2 linked regions of the Homo sapiens genome follow. The protein of the gene in region 2 interacts with the protein of the main gene of each other region in a biochemical or structural test. Each region holds a gene or a part of one and is shown on either strand. Other genes may lie near its edges.

Region 1 (3,748 bases), on a different chromosome or scaffold from region 2:
ATTTTAGATTACCAAGCAATTAGGGGGCACAGAGAAAGAACAGCAGGAGATGGCAGACTGCTCTACTTCCATCTTCAGTGGGGTTAAAAAAAAAAAAAAGCCACAATAACAACAGAAATTTAACTGAAAGTGATGTCCAAACTCAAAGTAGAGTATAATACCACCTGGTAATTAATGTCATACCTGACAGAGATATATAAAAAGAATGAATGACTACAGTCAAATTCAACTTAAAGTTTAAGCAGAATCCCAAATTTAAGTAAGTCTCTTTTCATTACATAGATATTTGATCTGATCAGAGCAATTTGCTTTGAGACCAAAGAGATCTGGCATTTTACTTATTCATTAGGAATTGAAAAAAGAAGACCTTTGGCTTTCTAACCAGCCATTTCATTCATGGCATCAACAGCCGATGGCAGCCACATGGAAATGTATGCTGGATATTTGGATAGTTTAAATATTATGTACAAGGAATAGCTTATAACCAGTGAAAATAATAAGAACATAATTCAGCATAAGTGTCCAAGATAAGATACAAAAAAGCAGAGAAAGTGCTTGAGTCTACAGGTCTTCCCTGAAAGTTTCAAAAATGTTTAATTCTTAAGCAGGTAGGCCTTTTAATAGAATTTGCATAGCAGCATACAAGGTAATTTGCATTAAAATATATGAACAGAGATTCTTCCATGGCTTTGAAAACAAATATATCCACATGCATATAAGTTAAGCAAGAAGACCTGGAATTTCTCACAAAATTAAAAAAAAGAATCTATTATAACCTTTTCTCACACTTTCGCCCATCAAAACCATTTACAGCAAAACCTGTTTCTAGGAGAAACATAGCCTTGTCCAGATTCCACACAGCTTAATTTTTTTTTTAAGCATAATTTCTGGGGCCAGGTGCAGTGGCTCACATCTGTAATCCCAGCACTTTGGGAGGCTGAGGCAGAAGGACTGCTTGAGTGCCAAGAGTTCAAGACCAGCCTGGGCAACATGGCGAAAAAAAAAAAAGAAAAAAAAATCCATAAAAATTAGCCAGGTGTGGTGGCACACACCTGTGGTCCCAGCTACTCAGGAGGCTGAGGTGAAAGGATCATTTGAGCCCAGAAGGTTGAGGCTGCAGTCAGCTATGATCATACCACTGCACTCCAACCTCGGTGACAGAGTGAGAACCTGTCTCAAAAAAAAAAGAAGGAAAAAAAAGAACAAATTCTGGTTTATCAGCTAAGTGCATTCATTCAGCTGGAAAAGCTTTGTTACCATTCAACTTAGGAGGATAAATTAGGAAAACAATCAGTAATAATGTTAGGTATTTGTTGTTTAGAAAGATTTTTTTACTTATAAAAATATAAGAAATAAATAATCCAATCTCTCCTGCCATGCAATAATTTTGAGTAACAAAGTTTGTGAGAGTACAGAACATAAAAACAGGCACTATCAGACCTTCTTTGGCCTAAAAAGTGCTAAAACATGGCTTTAAAATAGGTGAATGACATTTAAAGTAGTATTTTTGACTGCCTATATATGTTCCAGTATTTAACCTGAAACTCTTATCTACTAGGGAGGTGAGTTTACAGTTACAACTATCTAATAAATACTGCAGGAACTTATATTTAAGTATTTCTTCATATACAACATTAGAAACTAATTTCCAGATAATGTTTCATTTGATGACTTCAGGAAAGGACTTACCTTTTTCAGAAAAAGAAAAACTGAATGTTTTTCTTTTGTTCCTTTCCTTTTCTTTTTATGGAGAGAAAGGAGAGAAGTTTTAGGAGAAAAGGTGGGAGACTTTTCATATACCAACTCGCTGCTCCTAGGCATCTGTGTGGAATGTGGAGAAGCTGTCGAAGCCCCGGGTCTGGGGGGCACAGGAAGCAGTCCCTCTGAATGGGGAGCAGACACTATTCTGCAGTTTCCTTTCCATTCCACACACTGGAACCCACCACATCCTCAACAATTTTCTTAATTCAAAATGAAAAAGAAATGAAAAGTGAGCTGGTTCTATAAAAAAGGTAGAATATCGAAAATTCCCATTTGTAGTTATCATTTGGAAATAATTTGCCATACTTTGGCATCTAAATATAAATACATATTTATCATGGTGTCCCATTCATTAGAGAGCACTTCATTTGCGGACTGAAAATCCCACAAACACATTTGATTGAAGAACAACCTTGGTCATCATGACTGGAGAGCTGTTAGGTATGTAAGAAAAGCAGCAAAAGGGTTCTGGTTCTTGGGGCTGCTAATGGACAAAGGAAACCTCCCACACTTTCATTTCACAGCAAGACTCAAAAGATATTAAGAACCCTACAGACCTCAGTGCTATACATGTCAGTTTAACCTTGACCAAAATGAGTGAAAATGCACACATGCCTTGCCTTTCCTGCTCACATTTTAATTCCACCTATTTTACATCCTCATATAACCAACAAGCAGGGTGGCTCAGAAGCTCCCCTGCAAATCTCAGTGGCTTAGCTTTTCACATTAACACAGAAAACCTCAACCAAATGGCTTTGCTGCTGAAGTCTGTAAAGGCATCATTCAACATCTCATATTAATAATGCTCTCACTGCATAGAGGGTTCAAGATTGCCTACCTGAGGGTATTACATATTGAAATTCTGATTCCAGAAATCATTTCTGGACGTTCAAGAGATTTTTTTCCTTCTCTGAAATGAAAATTTATTGTGGGCCAGGCACGGGGGCTCACACCTATAATCCCAGCACTTTGGGAGGCCAAGGCAGGTGGATCACTTGAGGTCGGGAGTTCAAGACCAGCCTAGCCAACATGGTGAAAACCTGCCTCTACTAAAAATACAAAAATTAGCTGGGTGTGGTGGTGGGTAGCTATAACCCCAGCTACTCAGGAGAATCACTTGAACCTAGGAGGTGGAGGTTGCAGTGAGCCGAGATCATGCCACTGCACTCCAGCCTGGGAGACAGAACGAGACTCCGTCTCAAAAAAAAAAAGAAAAGAAAATTTATCTCAGATGGAGCCAATCTTAGGTTTATGAACTTTCAAAACATAAAAAGCTCTTGAAAGACATATTCTTGTCTAGATTTTAATTTCCAGTTTTAAGCAGTTCAGATAATTCATTTTTGGAACTTTGACAATTATATGAAGCTGGGGGAAGAACAGGCATCTCTCCCCAACCTCTGCATATTGTTGGTTTCACTGTAATGAGGAAGGAGGACTGACTTATGGGTGAAGGAGGACAATGGAGTTACAATGTTGACCTAGAACTCTCTCTGCTCATGGGTCCTCCCCATCGGTCAGGCCGCACTGAAACCAAATAGCTCATTTTGCACACAGGTGTGTTTTTCTCTTCTTTTCTCCCCCTGTGCCTGCCCCATCTGAAGTGACACCCTCCTCCACCCTCCACAGCGCTCACATTCTTCCGTGGCACTCTTGATCAATCAAGCAAACAAGAACTTTCCCTAGACCTTTCTTCAGAGAGCATAAAGAACATCCAAGTCAATATTACCTATTCTTTGAGATCCAGGGACTGTGCTAATTTTGACATTTTATATGATATTATACCATTTTAAATGTTTGCAGATATATACCACCTTCAAAATTAGGAAAAACAAGCTGAGTTCATTTTCTAACACTACAAAATCAGCATTCTTGCTGCTACTGTGTCCTAATGATATCTGGCAATCTTAACCAAAAGCAGGTAGCTGTTCCACGGTCTCATCACCCTGCTCACTGTAGGGTGTGCTGTGAAGCCAATAGTAAGTCTCGA
Region 2 (3,748 bases):
GGCTGGGAACGGGAGAAGCAGATGCAATTTATTCTTTCATTCTAAAGAAGGCCTTAAGCTGGGAGGAGAGTAGGAATCAGGCCTGAATTTCTTAAAAGGAAGCATGGGATCTTGTTTTGGATTTTAAGAATTTGTGAGTCTGTATCCTTAAAAGCCTCTGTTTGCTTAACTGAGTGATAGGGAAGAAACCTTCCAGGTGCAGGGAGAGAGATTCATAGAATTACTGCAGGAGAGGTTTTGGCCAAATTCTGAAAGAGGAATTTCCTTCCCAAATATGGAAAAGCATCCTATAATGGCCTGGAACTCAGAAGAGGTTCTAGCACACTTCCCCCGGTCGGGGGAAAGAGGGCATGGGTGGGGCTGGGGAGGGTGTCTCTTAGGCATCTCTCCTCGCGCTGTCCCGAGCCGCTGGCGCTGTCCGCGGTGCTGAAGCTCTGAGTCTGGCGCCGCCAAGGGCTGGCCTTGGAGGCGGTTACCAGAGAGGAAGGGGTCACAGAGCGAGGACTCTCCACTAGACCTGAGCCCTCTGTTGTATTCTGCCAACCCACAGCGTCACAGGAAGTACTCTGCCTCTCGGGCCTCCAAGCCCGGGTGGGGAAAGAGGGCGCCAGGCGGCGAGGCTGCGCCCCTTCCCCCACGCGCCACCCTCCCATCCCCCACCCCCTGTCCGTGAGTCAGCGCTGACTGTCTCTGTCCGCACAGATGTGAGTCAGCACCAGGCCTGGCTGTGGGGAGGGGGACAAGAGAGGACCCTCCCCTCTTCATCCTCTTCTGCCCCCTCCCCGTGCTGTCCCCCGTTACAGGAGATCAGATCGCTGCAATCAGCTTCTCTAGGCTTACGGAGAAACCCTGGCCTCTCTCTCTGCCCAGCTGGGACTCTATGTCTGCGGCCCAGGCTTCCACTGCCCAGAGATCACCGTTCCCTCATTCTCCCCGCCACCTCCCCTTCCCATTCCTCAGCGCCTGTCACCACCTCCCAGGCGCCTCGGAGCAAGTGGCTTCTCCTGTGGTCTCGCAGCCGGTCTCTAAGTCCCTCTGCCCACATGCACCCCGTGTCCTTCTCCCGAACCTGCAATTTTCCCCAGAGCCCAATTCTCTTAGGTCCCGCCCCCGTATTCCCAGCCCCACCTCCAGGCCTACGCCCCTTTCCTCCGAGACGCCCTCTCACCTTCCTCATCTCGCATGCCTCCCCCAACCCATATTCTCCCCGAGCTTCATGACATTTCACCCTCACCCCCACCGAGTTTCGCTCCAGGCCCCAAGCTGCTCCCCGCCCCCCACCACCCGCCAGCCCAAGTTTCCTCCTGACCGTGGGCACTAACGGCGCTGCAGCCCCCCGGGCGGCTGCTCAGCAGCAGGAGGCAGAGGAGCAGCCGGAGACCCCCGGATCCCCCGAGACCCCCAGGCCGCCGCGGGCGCCGCATCTTTCCGAGCTCCGGGCGCTCGCTCCCGGGCCGGAGCCGCAGCGACGCTGGCGGGAGCCTGCCAGAGGGGCTGAGGCGGGGCTTGCCGCTCCCCACCTCCCTACGAGGCGGGGTCTACATGCCCCTCTCGCTGCAACGCGGCCAACCGCAGGCGGGTGCTGACGACACCTCCACCCCCGGCTCGTAAGCTAATTTGCGTCACATATGGCGTAAGAGCCCTGTCGGAGCGGGGGACCTACCTAGCCCATCCCTCCTCCATCAAATAGTAGGCGCCTCGCTAGAATTCCCACTTGGCCCCATCCCTGTAGCCCTCTTCTAGGATCACCTCTGTCTCCCCGCCCCAGGGTGGGTGAAAAGGGTTAAGTTAAGTGGGGGGCCAGGAAAGATAGGTGGGTCCAGAACGATAAACCCGAAGACAAGAAGCAGAAAAGTGGGTAGAATAAGTACTCTTACTCATTGTCATTGAAGATACTGTTCTCTTCCTTAAGAAAAAATGGTTAGGCATGCCTAGATTCCAGTTCTAGCAGGGCATCTACTAAGGGTATGACCTTGGGCACCTTGTTTAACTTGTCTGCGTCCAAGTTTCCTGATCTGCAAAGTGGAGGTGTTAATAGTTACTACCCGCCTCACACAGTGATTGTGAAGATTTTGTTCGTTACACTAATATGGATCACTTAGAAGGATGACTGGACTGGTGCATACTACATGCTCCATACATATTAGCTGTCATCATTAGCTTTTATTTATTTTTTATTGAGATGGAGTCTTGCTCTGTTGGCCAGGCTGGATACTGGCGTGATCTTGGCTCACTGCAATGTCCACCTTCTGGGTTCAAGCCATTCTCCTGCCTCAGCCTCCCTAGTAGCTGGAATTACAGGCGCACAGCACCTTGCCCGGCTAATTTTTGCATTTTTATTGGAGATGGGATTTCACCTTGTTGGCCAGGATGGTCTTGAACTCTTGACCTCAGGTGATCCAACGGCCTTCGCCTCCCAAAATGCTGGGATTACAGGTGTGAGCTACCGGGCCTGGCCTCATCATTAGCTTTGACTCTCCTTTCTCTCCGTCTGTGCCACCTCGAGGCTATCAATCATTTTATGGTTTCTCCCTGCAAAATACATCTCCCATCAGTCCACTTCTGTCCATCCTCACTACCTGAACTGAAACACTGTGCTCTTTCACCACGACCACTGCAGCAATCAGCTAGTAACTGCTCTTTTGCTTCCACTCTAGTCATCCAATAAGTAGGGGAGTGAGCTTCTTAAGTTCAGATTTGATCTCCTTCCTCTCTTGCTTTCCAGTAAAATAAAATAAAATTTAAAAAGGACAGAAATGCATAATGAATACTTACATACTCATCATCCATACTTAATGGTTATTGATGTTTTACAATATTTGCTTCTTTTTAGTATTTAAACATGAATGATAGACATCATGACATTTCTCTTCTAAATATTTCATTATGCATCTCCAAGAAATAAGGACATTTTCCTGCATAACCTAAGTGCTGTTATGACACCTAAAAAAATTTACAATAATTCCTTAATATAATTTTTTAAATTTTTTTTTTTATTTTTTTGAGAAGGAGTCTTGCGCTCTTTTGCCCAGGCCAGACTGCAGTGGCACTATCTTGGCTCACTGCAAGCTCCCCCTCCCAGGTTCACGCCATTCTCCTGCCTCAGCCTCCTGAGTAGCTGGGATTACAGGTGCCTGCCACTGCACCCGGCTAATTTTTTGTATTTTTAGTAGAGACGGGGTTTCACCGTGTTAGCCAAGATGGTCTCGATCTCCTGACCTCGTGATGCACCCACCTCGGCCTCCCAAAGTGCTAGGATCACAGGCGTGAGCCACCGCGCCCGGGCATTCCTTAATATAATTTAATGCTCAGTTCATATTCAAATTTCTCAGATTGTTTCCCCAAAAATGCCTTTTCTTTTCAGGTGTTTTGTTCAAAATAACAGTCAATTAAGAACAACCACGGCCTTTGTTATGTTTCTTAATCTCTGTAAATTAGCATAGACACCATATCCTCTCTCCCCTCCCCCATTTTTGACATTGTCATGTTGATAGACCAGGTCAATTTTTCTTTAGAACTCTTCTTCTGGGTTTATCTGATTTTTTTCTTCATGTTGTATTTCCCTGTATTTCTCCAGTGTATAACCTGTATATCACCTGTATTTCCTGTAAACTAGAAGTTATATATGAAGTATTGACTGTATCAAATTAAAGAATTTTTAAAGCAAAATGCCTCTCATTGCATCATTTCAGGAAGTACATGATGTCTGACTGTTCTATTAGTGATGTTAAAATTGATCACTGGTTTA

Evidence for each region.
Region 1: the proteins of PTPRN (region 2) and SNTB2 form a complex in vitro, tested with the Homo sapiens proteins (2 studies listed by BioGRID and IntAct).

The regions. Positions count from the first base shown.
Region 1 is NC_000016.10:69,302,111-69,305,858, reverse strand, and holds part of SNTB2 (beta-2-syntrophin), read right to left. Parts: 3' UTR 1-3,748. UniProt on the Homo sapiens protein: Adapter protein that binds to and probably organizes the subcellular localization of a variety of membrane proteins. May link various receptors to the actin cytoskeleton and the dystrophin glycoprotein complex.
Region 2 is NC_000002.12:219,307,909-219,311,656, forward strand, and holds the start of PTPRN (receptor-type tyrosine-protein phosphatase-like N isoform 1 precursor), read right to left. Parts: upstream 1,494-3,748; 5' UTR 1,425-1,493; coding exon 1,310-1,424; intron 1,063-1,309; exon of another isoform or gene 974-1,062; intron 1-973. UniProt on the Homo sapiens protein: Plays a role in vesicle-mediated secretory processes. Required for normal accumulation of secretory vesicles in hippocampus, pituitary and pancreatic islets.